2 separate regions of the Homo sapiens genome follow, and region 2 is linked to region 1. Evidence: fine-mapped expression QTL. Tissue or cell type: subcutaneous fat. Region 1 holds a variant in brackets; the other region holds the start of a gene. All regions are shown on one strand. Distances are between the middles of the regions.

The links. PIP is the estimated chance that this variant, and not a neighbour inherited with it, causes the effect.
Region 2: NDST1 starts here. The variant in region 1 is fine-mapped to the expression of NDST1 in subcutaneous fat (GTEx, PIP 0.91).

What each region holds. Positions count from the first base shown.
Region 1 is chr5:150,462,153-150,470,253 of GRCh38, reverse strand. No RefSeq gene overlaps it. Among named protein-coding and RNA genes, the nearest start is that of RPS14, 16 kb to the right of the region's middle. RefSeq lists an enhancer at 5,355-6,080. The variant G/A (reference allele first, on the strand shown) is at 4,086.
Region 2 is chr5:150,504,035-150,512,133 of GRCh38, reverse strand. NDST1 (N-deacetylase and N-sulfotransferase 1) reads right to left here and starts at 4,003. Exons shown (of 15, transcript NM_001543.5): 1 at 3,908-4,003. RefSeq lists enhancers at 1-144, 1,446-2,019 and a silencer at 233-527.

The DNA of each region.
Region 1 (8,101 bases):
TTAGTGGGGTGTGGTGGTGTGTGCTTGCGGTCTCAGCTACTCAGGAGACTGAGGTGGGAGGATTGCTTGAGAACCAGAGGTCAAGGCTACAATAAGCCAAGATTGTGCCACTGCATTCCTGGGCGACAGAGCGAGATCCCATCTCAATAAATAAATACATACATACATACATACATAAAATTTTAAAAATAAGAAATATATTGTATTAAACCAACATACCCAAAATATCATTTTGACATGTAATTAATATAACGAAATGATTAATGAGATGTTTAAATTCTTTCTTTTGTGCTGAGTCTTCCAAATCCACTGTGTATTCTACTTAAAGCACATCTCAACTTGGACTAGTCACATTCTCAGTGCTCTATGACCACATGTGGCTAGCGGCTGCAGTGCTGGACAGCATAGTTTAGAAACCTTAAATCCTATGACTCACTTTTGTAAAATTCTAGGATGCTATGCCTCTGAGATTCTCGAATTCCACAGCATACCAAGGTTCTGAAATGCTATAACTGTGCTTCCACCAGATTAAAATGTTTCATGAACCACATTGTCTTTATTCAGTCTATCGGCGTTGGGCATTTGGGTTGGTTCCATGTCTTTGTTATTGTGAATAGTGCTGCAATAAACATACATGTGCATGTATCTTTAAAATAGAACGATTAAAAGAATTTTTTTTTTTTTTGAGATGGAGTTTCTGTCACCCAGGCTGGAGTGCAATGGTGCTATCTCGGCTCACTGCAACATCCGCTTCCTGGGTTCAAGTGATTCTTCTTCCTCAGCCTCCCGAGTAGCTGAGATTACAGGTGCACACCACCAGGCCTGGCTAATTTTTGTATTTTCATTAGAGACAGGGTTTCACCATGTTGATCAGGCCAGTCTTAAACTCCTGACCTCAGGTGATCCGCCTGCCTCGGCCTCCCAAAGTGCTGGGATTACAGGTGTGAGCCATCGCGCCTGGCCTATAATAGAATCATTTATATTCCTTTGGGTATATGCCCAGTAATGGGATTGCTGGGTCAAACGGTATTTCTGGTTCTAGATCCTTGAGGATGATTCCTGTCTTCCACAATGGTTGAACTAATTTACATTCCCACCAACAGTGTAAAAGCGTTATGAGATCATGTCCTTTGCAGGAACATGGATGAAGCTGGAAGCCATCATCCTCAGCAAACTAATACAGGAACAGAAAACCAAACACCACATGTTCTCACTCATAAGTGCGAGTTGAACAATGAGAATACATGGACCCAGAGAGGGGAAAAACACACACTGGGACCTGTAGGTGGGGTTTGGGAGGTCGGGGGAGGGAGAGCATCAGGACAAATTGCTAATGCATGTGGGGCTTAAAACCTAGGTGACAGGTTGATAGGTGCAGCAAACCACCATGGCACACGTATACCTATGTAACAAAGCAGGTTACATAGGTATACATGTTCTACACATGTATCCCAGAACTTAAAGTAAAAATAAACAAAAAAATTTAAAAATAATAAAATGTTTCATGAGCCCCAAATCTGCATTTGAAGGCTTCTACCCACACATGTTTTGTATGGAAAGAAATCCAGATCCCTGTACAGCCTGAGGGGTGGGGCGGGAGCAAGGAGCCCTCCTTGGCTGCCCCCACCATCTGGCCGGCCTGTGGCATAGGGGATGGGCATGCTCCTTGCAGAACTACCTCTCCTACCATCCCTCCAGCATGGCACCTCTCCATCCATGTGTGCCTGGAAGTGAGGGTCCTGCCTTCCAGTCCTCCTGGGAAGGGGGTGTGCCCCTGCCTCCTTCCCTTGGTTTCTGTCCACTCTGGGGCATCTGGGGGCAGCAGTGGCAGATGGAGCAGGGGAGTCAAAATCCCAGATGGAATCTCCTGAGGATGGAACTGATCTCCATTTGCTGAAGGCTGGATCCCTCAGGAGCCTGGGGAGGGCAGAAGTCAGAGGCCCGCGGTCTGGGGCTTGGAGAGCCAGAAGGGCTCTCTGAGGGCGTGTGATGGCGCCTTTCACAGTGCAGATGGGGAAACTGAGACCCAAGAACAGAAGGGGTTTCCCAAATTAGGCACAAGGTGAATGTCATGCTCTGCCAGAAGGAATGTCCCCTGGGTAGCCACAGGCTTCTCTTCCTACTCCCAAACTCCCTCTCCCATCACCACTTGTGAGGAAGTCGAGGCACAAACCCAGCATGGTGGACGTCAGGGAGGCTGCAGGAGGGCCCCCCCATAGCTATTGTGTCCAGGTGGGTGACTTTTCAGCTTTGGGATATGTCTTCGTGTCTTATGGTTTGGGCTGCTATAACAAAATAGACTGGGTGGTTTTTAAACAACATAAATTATTTCTCACCATTCTATTTTTTTTCTTTTCTTCTGCTTTTGAGACAGAGTCTTGCTCTGTCGCCCAGGCTGGAGTGCAGTGGTGCAATCTCGGCTCACTACAACCTCCACCTCCTGGGTTCAAGCGATTCTTGTGCCTCAGCCTCCCGAGTAGCTGGGATTAAAGGTGTGCATTACCACACCTAGCTAAATTTTTTTTTTTTTTTTTTTTTTTTGAGACGGAGTCTTGATCTGTGGCCCAGGCTGGAATGCAATGGCATGATCTTGGCTCGCTGCAACTTCTGCCTCCCGGGTTCACGCGATTCTCCTGTCTCAGCCTCCTGAGTAGCTGGGATTACAGGCACCCGCCACCATGCCTGGCTAATTTTTGTATTTTTAGTAGAGATGGGGTTTCACCATGTTGGTCAGGCTGGTCTCGAACTCCTGACCTCAAGTGATCTGCCCGCCTCAGCCTCCCAAAGTGCTGGGATTACAAGTGTAAGCCACTGCACCCAGCCTGTTTCTCACCATTCTAAAGGCTGGGAAGTCTGAGATCAAGGCTATGGCAGATTCAGTGTCTGGTGAGGGCTGGCTTCCCCATTTGTAGATGGCACCCTCTCACTGCATCCTCACATGGTGGAAGGGGTGAATGAGTTCCCTTGGGCCTATTCTATACGAGCACTAATCCCACTTATGAGGGCTCTGCCCTTGTGACCTAATCACCTCCCAAAGACCTCACCTTTTAGTATCATCACCTTGGGAGTTAGGATTTTAACATGGATTTAGGAGGCACACAAACATTCACACCATAGCAGGATGCTCATGTCAGGCTCAGAAACCTCCTGGTTAGAACCTTGCCCCAGGCTCACCCTTGACCCGGAACCATGGGTCCTGCAGAGGGTCTGGGGAATGGGTACTTGGCCACAGGCAGCAGCCTGGGTGAGATGTGATGAAGGCGGAGCTAAGTGCTGAGGGTCTCAATCAAAAATAATCAGCTTCCTTCTACATCTGCTCTGCTCTCCAGCTCTGGATTCCACTCCAAAGCCCTTTTGTAGCCACAGTCCCATTTGAACCTCACAAGCACCCAGGAGGAAAAGAAGGCAGGAGGACTTGACATCAGCACGTAAACTCCCAGCCAGAGGGCCAGTGTGAGAACTTCGCTACTGTTCCTCAACTCCATGCCATGCCTCTTCCTTTTTTTCTTTTTTTTTAGACACGGTCTTACTCTGCCACCTAGACTGGAGTACAGTGGTGCCATCATAGCTCACTGCAGCCTCGACCTCCTGCGCTCAAGCAATCCTCCCACCTCAGCCTCCCAAGTAATTGAGACTATAGACATAAGCCACCATACCCAGCAATTTTTGAAAATTTTTGTAGAGACAGGGTCTCACTATGTTGCCCAGGCTGGTCTTGAACTCCTGGGCTTCAGCAATGCTCCTATCTCAGCCTTCCAAAGTGTTGGGATTATAGACATGAACCACCATGCCTGGCCTATTCCCATTTTTACAGATGGGGAAACTGAGGCCCAGAGAGGGGCTATGACTTGTCCCAGGCTACAGAGCCAGAGGGAGGCCAAGTCTAAACTCCTGAGAGTCATAGGCATCACCTATTGAGGAAGCCCCCCACCTTGCTGCACTCCCAGGCACCCAGACCCTCGGCAGCCGAAGAGACAAACATCAGAGGTCACTGACAGCCACATTTTCCACGGGATGCTTCCAGGCTGGGTTTCCCCTCGGAGGAAGGCCCCAAGGTTGTTCCGCATGGTTAGGAGAACTGGGAA[G/A]GAAATGACAGAGATCCTGCCACAGTGGGCAACAGAAAACAACCTGGCCTTTGGCCTCTAGGGATCTGGCTCCGCCAAAGTCTGGTTTGGGGAGGGAGATGGGAGGCACAGCAGGAAGGCAGGCCTGGAATCTAGATTTGAAAAAGCACAAGCTTTGGAGTGAGATGGCCTGGATTCAAGTCTCTAGGGCTGCTACTGAGTGGCTATGTGGCCCCGTGTCCGTGGCTCCACCTGGGCTCCCTCCTCTACCTGGGCAATGCCCATTTCTGGTAAGAATCTGAGTGTGTATAAGCTAAGCCTATTGTTGCTGAATAAATGCTAGTTCTCACTCAAATGCCCCTCTGGGAAGCAATCAGGCCCTAGGGCCCCCCATCTGCCACTCTTTGCTGCCATAAATATGCTCCATAAATATTTATTGAATAAACAAATGAATAAATGAATGCTGCCTGCCCAAAATATAAGGGAAGGCTTTGAACCCATCTATCAGGAGACACAGCAGACTCTGACAGAACTTGCTGGGTGGCCTCATTTTTACAAGAATATATAATAATAACTAACCTTTCTAAAGCACTCACTACCTATCAGGCTTTGCTGGGAACTGCAGAGCACTCGGTTTTCCCAGCAGCACTATCAGGAGCTATGACTATTATCCCCGGGCTCCAGATTAGGAACACTGAGGCATGGAGAGGCCACAGAACCCTGAGGTCACACTGCTAGTTGGTGGCAGAGCCTAGACTTGGACTCAAGCAGCCTGACCCCAGAGCCCCTGTTCCTTGCTCTGGGATGGCTCCTGGGGCTTTTATTTTATTTTTATTTTTATTCTATTTAAGATGGAGTCTTGCCCTGTTGCCAAGGCTGGAGTGCAGTGGCATGATCTCGGCTCACTGCAACCTCCGCCTCCTGGGTTCAAGCGATTCTCCTGCCTCAGCCCCCCGAGTAGCTTGGATTACAGGCACCCATCACCACGGCTGGCTAATTTTTGTAATTTTTAGTAAAGACAGGGTTTCACCATGTTGGCCAGGCTGGTCTTGAACTCTTGACCTCAAGAGATTCACCAGCCTTGGCCTCCCAAAGTGCCGGGATTACAGGCGTGAGCCACCGCACCCAGCTCTGGGGGTTTTTAGCCTCCCCTTCCCGGCTTCCCGCTTTCTCGGCCAAGGACTCCTATGGGGTGAGACTCCCTTTCTCAGGTTGGTGCTGCTTAGGGCTTCCCAGCGGTCTTAGAGGCTCCTGCAAATCAGCCTTGGGGAGCGTATGTGGGAGATGAAGTGGGGGCTCTGCCCAGCCCGAGACTGTTGCTCAGGTCCTTTTTCAGAGACTAATTCTCTGCAGCTTTCTGGTTGCTTCCTGCCTCAGAGTGAGGCAGGAAGCAAGGCCAACAGGGATTTTGGCTCCAGCTCCTTTGTCCTCACTCAGCTCATCCTCCCCCTCCCCTACTCCAACTTCTGGATCAGCCTCTTTTTTGCCTAACCAGGGACCTTGAACTTAATGTTCACTCCCAGGCCGACTTCCCAGTGTGAGAGCAGCAACTCAGGGCTGGGAATCCAGAGACTGCCAAGAACTGAAGGGTGCTTTTCCTTCCGGGCGGGCAGATTTGGAGAAAGCCTGCCCTGAGATGGGAGAGATAGGGGTGGGTCTGGAATGTGCAAGCGGCCCACACCTGCACATCAATTTACAAAGAAGCTCCACGGTGATCCAGTGATCCTGTTGGTTCATCCCCAACCACCCCGGTTAGAGATGGGTTAGCTTGTTATCATCCCAATTGAACAGAAGAGGAAACAGGCTCAGGGGGATTTAGTGACCTGTTCATGACTATGTAGACATTTAGGGGCAAAAGCAAATGTTTACCCAATTCTGCAAAGATTGTATAATAATACTTTTTTTTTTTGTGGAGTCTTGCACTATTGCCCAGGCTGGAGTGCAGTGGCGCGATCTCGACTAATCCTGCCGCCACGCCTGGCTAATTTTTGTATTTTTAGTAGAGACGGGGTTTCATCATGTTGGCCAGGCTGGTCTCGAACTCCTGACCTCAGGTGATTCACCCGCCTCGGCCTCCCAAAGTGCTGGGATTACAAGTGTGAGCCACTGTGCCCAGCCATAATACTATTATTATTGCAAATATTTTCTAAGTTCTGACTGTGCCAAAAGCTTTCCTCTTATTACCTCGTTTAATCCTCTCAACAACTCTAAGAAGTAGTGATCCCTATTTTACAGATGAGGGAACTAACTGAGGCTCAGAGAAGCAAATCACCTGCATAAAGTACACTTAGTCACATCCACTAATCAGAATGTGAAAGCCAGATTTGAACTCAAGTTTGTCTGGCTCTAAAGTCTGAGGCTTCACAGGCAAGATTCTACCTCGGGTGGAGGAGTTATTGTTTGCCAATGCAGGGGGTGGGGTAAGCCTGACTTTACCCACCTTTTCATGATGCTGCTTCAGACCTGGTGCACACAGCCCTGGGAACCCTGCAGGCAGTGGGCCCGGAAGAATCTAACAGATACTGCAGAATTTGGGGGCACTCTGGGGCCATGTCTGAATGTGACCCCTCTCTGCACAGCAGCAGCCCCTGGTCTAGGCAAAGGTGGCCCTCTGACAGCCTCACAGATGAACTCTGCAAAAGCAGATTCATTCATTCACTCAACACCAGCCAAGAAGCCTTCACATCTCTACTCACAGACACCCAGTTATTTTGCCAACCTCCCAACCACGGCGAGCTACATAATTTGCAGGGCCCAAGTGCAAAATAAAAATGCAGAAGCCTTTGTTCAACCACTATTAAGAATTTCAGGGCCTGGTGCAGTGGCTCACACCTGTAATCCCAGCACTTTGGGAGGCCAAGGCAGGCAGATCACCTGAGGTCTGGAGTTCAAGACCAGCCTGGCCAACATACTGAAACTCCATCTCTACTAAAAATACAAAACTTAGCTGGGCATGGTGGTATGGGCCTGCAGTCCCAGCTACTCAGAAGCCTGAAGCAGGAGAATCGCTCAAACCTGGGAGGCGGAGGTTGCAGTGAGCAGAGAAAACGCCACTGCACTCACCAGCCTGGGAGACACAGCGAGACTCCGTCTCAAAAAAAAAAAAAAAAAAAAAAAAAAGAATTTCAGGACAGCAACCACAGTGCATTAACCAAGCATGGGCCCTGTGCAACTGTAGAGGTCACAGGCTCGTGGTGCCAGCCCTGTCCCCACCTCATCTCCCTTCTCCCTCTGGTTCTCCTCCTTACTCCTGGCCACTTTATCCTCCTTTCACATCCTCATGCTAAGCTCAGGGCTTTTGCAAAGACTGTTCTTCCTGTCAGGAACCCTTTCCCAATCTTCCCTCATAACTTAGTCCTTATGATTCAGGTCTCTGCTGAAATGTCACCTCCCTGGTGCCCCAGCCTAAAGTAGCCACCCACATAGCTCTCCATCCTGTCTGCAATTTATTCCCTTTATAGTCTGCACCACACTCTGTGACCTTATGTCTATCTGTTAGTTTACTGTTTACTGTCCATCTTCCCTGCTAGGATGTTGACTTGGGCAGGCATGGCCCACATCTGTCCTATTCAGCGCCGAATCCTCAGCGCCCAACCCAGTGCTTGGCTCACAGTATGTGTTCAATAATTATTTGTGGCCAGGTGTGGTGGCTCACACCTGTAATCCTAGCACTTTGGGAGGCCGAGGTGGGTGGATCATTTGAGGTCAGGAGTTCGAGACCAGCCTGGCCAACATGGTGAAACCCCGCCTCTAATAAAAATACAAAAATTAGCCAGTAGTGGCAGGCGCCTGCAGTCCCAGCTACTCGGGAGGCTGAAGCAGGAGAATCGCTTGAACCTGGGAGTTGGAGGTTGCAGTGAGCCAAGATTGCACCACTGGACTCCAGCCTAGGGGGTAGAGAGAGACTCTGTCTCAAAAAAATAAATAAAATAATAATAATTATTATTTATAAAACAATGAATGACTGAATGAATGAATGAATGGACACCAACATCCTAACAACATTCTCTCACCCTTATGTCTCTCCCTCAGCAACC
Region 2 (8,099 bases), 42 kb before region 1:
CAGCAACCTCAGAAGGATGTGAATGGGTGGGTACCTGGACTTGGGCAGGGACCTGAGCAGGGGAGGGCGTAGCAGTGGCTGCAGGCCTGGGGAACAGGTAGCCCCACATGCACCCAGGGCCACTCCCCATAGCTGATCCAGCCCCTCCCAGCCAGTCACACCCCCAGCACAGTCACATCATCACCCCCACCCAGCCACACCCCACAGCTTCCCAGCTCCACCAGCCACCCTACCACAGCCTGCCCCACCCACCACATCCAGCTCAGCAAGGAAAATCCTCCACATTTGCTTCCCAGCTGTGCGGGAGTTTCTCCAGCGTGATTACATCCCTGGGAGGCCGAGACCAGAAGCAAATCCCTTCCTCTGCTGGAATCTGCTACATGCCCCATCCCCCATCACCCCCACAGTGCTGCCTGGCCAGGAGCCAAGCTGCCGCCTGTCAGTCACCCCAGAGTCCAGGACCACCACCACCGGGAAAGAGACTGTTGGAGGTCTGGCTCAGAGTCGCAGGGCCACAGAGAGCACAGTCTACCCTGCAGTAAGCCCCTGGGGACACTGAGACCCAGAGAGAGGAAAGGACCTCCTGGCTTGTGCCGTCTGGTGTGCCCCACTCTCATTTACCTTGGTCCATTTTCTTGTCCATTAAAACCCTGTCCCTCCTCCTCCAATGCCAGCCTCAGCAGGGAGGTGAACAAGCCTGCTCTGGATTTCTAAAGTCCTGATTGAGCTCCCCTGCTCCACATCCCACCACGCAACACCAGGTATCAGTTGTTCTTGCAACTAGAACATGGGGCTCCCAACTTCACTGAAAGCTTTCCAAGGCACAAGCCATCTCCTACCCACAGCAGGTACTCAAGAGCCTTGTGCCCTTGCCAATTACCTTCCCCTCTGTGAATCTGCTACGCGGCATCTCCAAGCTAAATGCATTAATAACATTAACTTCCATTTATGAGACATGCCATGTCTGCGTTACATGCCATTATTTCAACCTTACCACAGCACCATGACCTAGATTCCCCCCATTATACGGATGAGAAACTGAGGTCCAAAGAGGCCAGTCACTTGCTGCAGCCCACAGAGCTAATAAGGGGGTGAATGGGAACTTCAGCACACAGCTGCTGGGCTCCAGAGCCTGGGCCCCTCATCCCCCATCTCCGCAGCCCCTCTGTGATCACCTAAGACAGCTAACATTTGCCAGATGCCCTGCACATCCCTTTCTCCATTCCTTTTCAATAGTTTTCTGTCTGTGTTTGTTTTCATCCATTTTATATGTGTTTTAGTATCACAAGCAGCCTCTAGTGATCTTTCTTGGAAGTAGCTCACAGATCATCCGTCAATCAACAAGGAAACAAAGCATTAAGCACTACTGGTTCACTCCCTGGTTCTCAACTTGTGAATCTGTTCTGGGTTCCCTGGCAGGGAAGGCCCAACAGAAAACCTCAGGAACTTAGACCTCACTTGTTGAGAATGTGTCCTTCTTCCAACAGGGCCTGAGTTGCGAGTTTACCTTTGTACCAGCTCTGAAAAAAAGGGCTTACCGAGCAAACATACCAGACAGCCTGGGGGTGGGGCTGTGTGGGGAACACGGCAGGTCACCTGCCACCCTCCCGTCCCAAGGACGGGACAGTCCTGACAGTCCCACTGAGGCTCTTCACGCACACCAAGGCTGTCAGGTCCATCACACAGAATGTTATGCAGTGGCCACAAATCTTCCCAAAATGGGGCTCTCTGCCCACCCTATCCCCAAATCTGCCTATGACAGAGTCAAATCCATCCAGAACTATTTTTTCCTTAGGCTCAGATCACAGACACTCAAAAGGAACAAAGCAGCATATCCCAACACATATCATAACCTCCCTTACTGGCGGCCAACGTTAAGCTCCTGCGAACATGTGGGGCTGTGCCAGGAGCCTTACCTGCTCCATCACGCTCAATCCTAACACCCTGAAAGAGGTGTCACTGCTATGAGCACTTTACAGACAAGGAAATGGAGGCTCAGAGAGGGTAAGCAACCGCTCGAAGTCACACAGCTGGGCAGAGGTGGAGCTAGGATGCCCCTCCCAGCCCACCCCACAGCCCCTGTTCGTTACCCTTCTGCAGTCCTACTTTCCACACCACTCCCAAGCCAGGTCTGCAGCCCAGGAGAGAGGCTTCCTGGAGGTGACCAGGCCCAGGGCTGCTGACCCAGCTTCTCTAGCTGAGCTTCAGCCTCCTGGGAAAGCCTGCACTGCAGAGAGGTGCACCATGGAACCCAGCAAGGCAGGACTTCAGCCAGAGGGTCCTCACGCCCCCATCAGACACCCCAATATAAGAAAGGGGGATGGCGGCTCGGGGCAGTGGCCCCTGCCTGTAATCCCAGCACTTTGGGAGGCTGAGGCGGGTAGATCACAAGGTCCTGAGATCGAGACCATCCTGGCTAACACGGTGAAACCCCATCTCTACTAACAATACAAAATTAGCCAGGTGTGTGGCACATGCCTGTAATCCCAGCAACTCCAGAGGCTGAGGCAGGAGAATCGCTTGAACCTGGGAGGCGGAGATTACAGTGAGCCGAGATGGCGCCATTGCACTCTAGCCTGAGCGAAACTCCATCTCAAAAAAAATAAAGAAAGGGGGGCCACCTCCTGCCCCAGGCAGAGGCCTCATGCTAAGGAAGAGGCAGGAGCGAGGGTCAGAAGCAGGAGATCTCAGCTAGCAGGGCACCGCAAAGGACAATGGTGAGCACCTCGCCTCACGGCCTGGCATGTGCCAGGCGCTCTACCAAGCACTTCCCAACCCTCACTTCATTTATTTGTCATTTATGCCCAGTGAAGTAAAAACAATTTTATCACACCCTGAGCTTCTCCCCTATCTGCCTCCCCTGCAGAGGAGCTGGGAAATGTGGGTCACCACTAGCCCCCACCCTCCCGCATGCCCGACTCCAGGCCTCAGATACACCCTGAGAGATTCCAAGGCACAGGCAGACTCAGGGGCCTCCATCTCAAGGATGCAGAAGCCAAAATCCATGCGGGCCTGGAAACCACAACAGCCTCCCAGTCCTTCCCTCCCAGTCATCCCCTTCCTCTCATCAGGGGATGAGAGGTCATTGTCCCCTGAATGAGCCAAGCTTCCCCAGCTTGTAAGGTCAGGCAGAATGCTGGCAGGAAGACAGAGGCAGGGGGTGCCACAGCCTCCATTGCCGCCTGTGAGTCTCTGGGCAAGTCCCTTCCCTTCTCTGAGCCTCAGTTTCTGCAACTGCAGTGAGGGGTATGGACTAGAGGAGAAGTCTGTGACCTTCTGGGGGTTATAGAACCCTTTGAGAATCTAATGATGGCTATTAGCAGATTCTCTCCCCAGACACACAAATTCAGAGTGGTTGTGACTGGCCCCCATCAAAAGCCAAGTTAAGAACATGGAAATTCTCTAGGGGCCCCTCTGGCTTTGACAAGCCATGGCTCTCACAGTCTAGACAGGACCAAAGCCACAAACACAACATCTGAGAGCCCTGGGATCTCACCATTTCAGCTTCCCCCGTGGCCCTGAAATAAATCTTTAAACTCTTGGACCTGCTGGCTTCAGGTGGATTTGTGGACATGCCTAGCTGTCTGGAGAAGCCACAGGAGAAACTGAGCCCTTCCTTCCCATCCCTCAGCCTCCTCCTCCTTCTCCTCCATCAGGAATCTGCCAGGTCAGCCTAGACCTCTCCCTGGGGCAGTTCCGGGAGCTGCTTCTGATCTGGAATGAAGGCAGGACCCAGTGCCAGGCTCAAGTGCCAGCCTGTACCCCCAGATCCCTCCTGGGGACACACACACACACACACACACACACACACTCAGATGGACCTGGAAGGACTGGACAGGGCAGGGGGCCAGGGACAGTGGTCAGAGTGGACAGGAGCCAGCGAGACAATGACCAGACCCAGACCCACCGGAGCTCCAGGCAGTGGCGTGAGGTTCCTCTTCACTTCGCCACGCCCTCTCGAATGTCCTCTCCTTAACACGGCTGCACCTAATCCCAGGGCCAGGAAAAATGGCATTACTGTTGGCCCAGTCCCCTCCCCAGGAGAAAGGGAAGGCAGAAGCAAGGGAGGGAGGTGGCCCTAGAGCACCCTGCGCCACCAACCACGTTCCTAGAAACCTCCACGCCCCTTCATGCCACCTCCCTTGTCAAGGCCTCCAGCCCCTACCTCCTTAACCTCAGAAAGAGGATGTCCTCCTCCGATTCTGCCCCGTGCCCAGGGAACCACTGGCACCTCGCCTGCCTCACCCAAGCCCTGCCTGGAGGAGCCTTCCACGGGAAAGGAAAAAGCATGTCCCTGACCCTCATGCTAGTGGGTCTTCTGACCCTCTCAAGAGAGGTAGCAGCCAACAGCAGGAGGAGCACTCACTGGCAATAAGGATAACTGGGTCCTGGTTCCAGCCCTGGCCCTTCCCCCTCCAGACCTCAGTTTCCCCACCTGTCCTGAGAAGAAGAGGAAGGACTGGTATGCCCAGCTGGAGGGAAAAGTGTCTATGATGCTGGCTTTTGGCCCCTGGCCCCACCCAGCTCAGCTGCCAGGCCCTTCCCTGTGCCCCACCCTGCAGAGAAGGAAGAAAGGTGACCGGCAAAGGTGTGGAGGGTGTAAGAATCCATGCTGGAGCCTCAAAGTGCTAGAGCTGAAAAGGGTCTTACAAAGACGAGACCCAGAGAAGAGAAGCAACTTGGCCACGGTCACACAGAACACTGGAAAAGGGCCAGGCTGGCCAGGGCTTGCTTCTTGACAGCAAATGCTTAAAAGCACCCAGCTGAAAAGGTATTTGCCTTCTTAGAGGATGCCAAGGAGAGCACAAGGCAACCTGACAACAGTAGAACTGCAGGCTCTGAGAGCTGCAGTTAAAAAAAAAAAAAAGGTATGTTTATACGTGGGGCTTAAGGATGGAGGTTGGGCTGGCTTTCCAGGCTCCTCATGTCACACCACGTGGGTGGCCAAGGGTCCTGCCAGCCACAGGGAAATCCTAGGAGCCCCTTCCAGGGATTAGCAGCTTTGGCCACCTCTCAAGAAGTCACCTAAGGCCCAGCAGGCAGGCCCAGCAGTGGTGACAGAAAGAATGGCTCAGATGGACACTCCAAGACTAGCCCACTCTGGAAGATGCCAGAGCCTTGGAGAGACTGAAAATCCCCCAAGCCCCGTGGCCAGTGAGGACGGAAGCCAGGTGGGCTAGGGATAACACAGAGGAAGGGAAAAGCTTTGAGCCATCTGGAGCCACAGAAGCCCCCTAATCTCCTAGAGGCCTGGTGGGTACAACACAGGGCCTGCTGAGACCAAGGAGGCTTCACCGAGGGCCCACATGAAAGCAGCCAGTCCCTGTAGACTTGCTGGGGCTTGTCATCACGACAAAAGCTGGCCACCAACACGCCTTGGGGTGTTAAGGGACTCAAAGTACTTACATGGAGGCGCAGCTGGCAGGGGGAGGGGGCAGAAGGTGGGGAGAGGTGGGGGCAAGTGGGCCCGGCTTTCTCTAGGACACAGACAACAGCTAGAGAACAGAAACGTGGAGCAAAAAGCACTGGGTGACCTACTTCACAGAGGCTCCTTTTAAAGAGGAATAGGAGGCCTCAGCGAGACTCTAAAAAGTACCTCGCAGGGGTCCAGAACAGTTCATGGGGCCAGGAGACCAGGGTTCCAGTCCTAGATCAGGAACTCACCCAGGACTAGGCTCAGGTGAGGCCCGCGAGGAGCCTTTTAGAAGGTGCTCACTGCCAGGTGCAGTGGCTCACGCCTGTCATCCCAACACTTTGGGAGCTCAAGGCAGGTTGACCCAGGAGTTTGAGACCAGGAGTTCAACACCAGCCTGGGCAACATGGCAAAACCCCTTCTCTACAAAAAAAAATTACAAAAATTAGACAGCGTAGTGGCGTGTGCCTATAGTCAGTTATATGGGAGGGCTGAGGTGCGAGGATCACCTGAGCCCAGGAGGTTGAGGCTACAGTAAGCCCAGATTGCACCACTGCACTCCAACCTGTGCGACACAGCTAGACCCTCTCTCAAAAACAAAGGTTCTTATTCTCCACAATGTGCAAGCACACAGCGGGCACCTCCTGAGACGCTGCACTTAGATGCCTCACTTGCCTCATCCTAGGCCCGGCCTTCTTACACAACCTGCCTGTGACCTCAGGCAAGTACCACTCCTTTCTCGGCCTCAGTTTGGTCACATAAAACAGAATCATGAAGCCAGGCATGGTGACACGAGCCTGTAGTCCCAGCTATTCAGGAGGCTGAGGTAGGAGGATTGCTGGAAGCCCGGGCATTCAAGGCCGCAGTGAGCTACAACTGCACTATGGCACTGCAGCCTGGGAGATACAGCAAGACCCCATCTCTAAAAAAAATAAAATTTTAAAAAACGAGTTAATTTAAAAAATTGAATCATGCCATATGATTCCATAGACCCTCCTAAATCTAAGCTGGGTTATTCTGTAGGGAGCATAACCGACCTCTGCAGCAAATCCCCGAAATGGGCACAGTGGCCCCAGCTTCCTGCCATCGATAACCTGTCAGTCACCACGTTGTCAGTGACCACGTTCCAGGCAGAATACACATTATACAACCACCTGATGCCATTATGTTCTGGGCTCTTTGTTAAATGCTTGGCCTCTACTTGATCATGGCCTCATTTTACAAATATGGAGCCTGAGGTCCACAGAGATTAAGCAACTTGCTTAAGGTCCCTGTTGGGAAGTGCTTAGCTGAGATTCGAACCAGCATCTGTCTGGTTCTTAATCCCCACATTCCATGGCATCAGCCACAGATAACAGAAAACCCACCAGGGCTGGGGAAATGCCATCAGCTCTTTGCACCTCCCACATTTTCTAGCATATAATGCCGGGGCTAATGTGAAGGCAGGCTGGTGGACAGCCGGGAGCAGGTAGGCAGGGATGGGGAAGTCCGTGTGGGCACTAAGCATTCCACAGATGAACCAGCCTCCAGCCCGGCCAGCTGCCCACCACTGTGGTTACAATGCCCTCATCGCCATCAGCACACCACAGCCACCGCTGTGCCATTTTTAAATCATTACACAGATGCAAAGCATTTTCACAGGCATTGCTGCGGTATCACATGCCAACTTTATTAAAGTATAGCAGGGATTTCTTCCCCCTTTCTCAGAAAAGGAAAGTGGGGTTTCCAGAGGATAAGTGGCTTCCCAACACGCACACAGGAACACAATGTTTGAGATGAACTTGGAGCCCACATCCTCTGCCTCCCAGTCCAAGCTTGGGTCTACTCCTCCATGCTCACGACTTTCCAGTTCAACCAACTGATGGGCCTTTGGGACAATGATGACCATTTCTGAGAGTTTACTTGGTACCAGGTGTTGTACTCTGCATTTCACACGTTATCCCATTTAACTGTCCTGACATTCCTATCAACTAAGTATTGCTACTGTTTTCATTTCACAAAGACAGCAGCTCAGAAAAGTAGGGTATCATGCCCAAGGTCACCAGGCCAGGAAGGGGCAGAGCTGGCATCCAAACAGAGTTCAGACTGGCTCCAGAGCCTGGGGCCTAAACCTCATGCTGCACAGCTCTGTCGGGGAGACTCTGTCACGGGCAGTCAGTGGAGGGGACAGGAGGTAGACACATCAAATAGTGTGTGCATCTGGCAGATTATGGCAAGATTACGATAATGGAGGACAAACAAAGCTCTTAGGGAGCCCACAAGAGGGAGGTTGTTACAAACGTCCAGGCAGAAGGCCAGGAGTCTGTGCAGAGGACACGGAAACAGAGGGGAGTGGCAGATATGAGGGAGGCGGCCTTGTGAGACCTTGGTCAAGTGCCTTGCTCTCTCCAGACCTCAATTTACCAAGCTGTTAAGAAAAGTCCTTGGAACATCTCCAGAACCCCCACCATCCCTGAAGACTCCTGGGCCCTGGGAAAATAAGCAATGCCCGGTGACAGCCTGGCTATGAGCCCTGGGGACTCTGAAATGTCCTTGGCTGTCCTGGCACAGCTCAACTGCTGGGAAACAGGCTTGCAGAAGCAGAGGGCTTGGCTGGCATGCCTGGGCACCAGTGAAGTGTGGGTTCTGAAGGGGCCACATTCCACCCATTGTCAACCTCTCCACGGCTCTGCTGGAGCAAGCACCA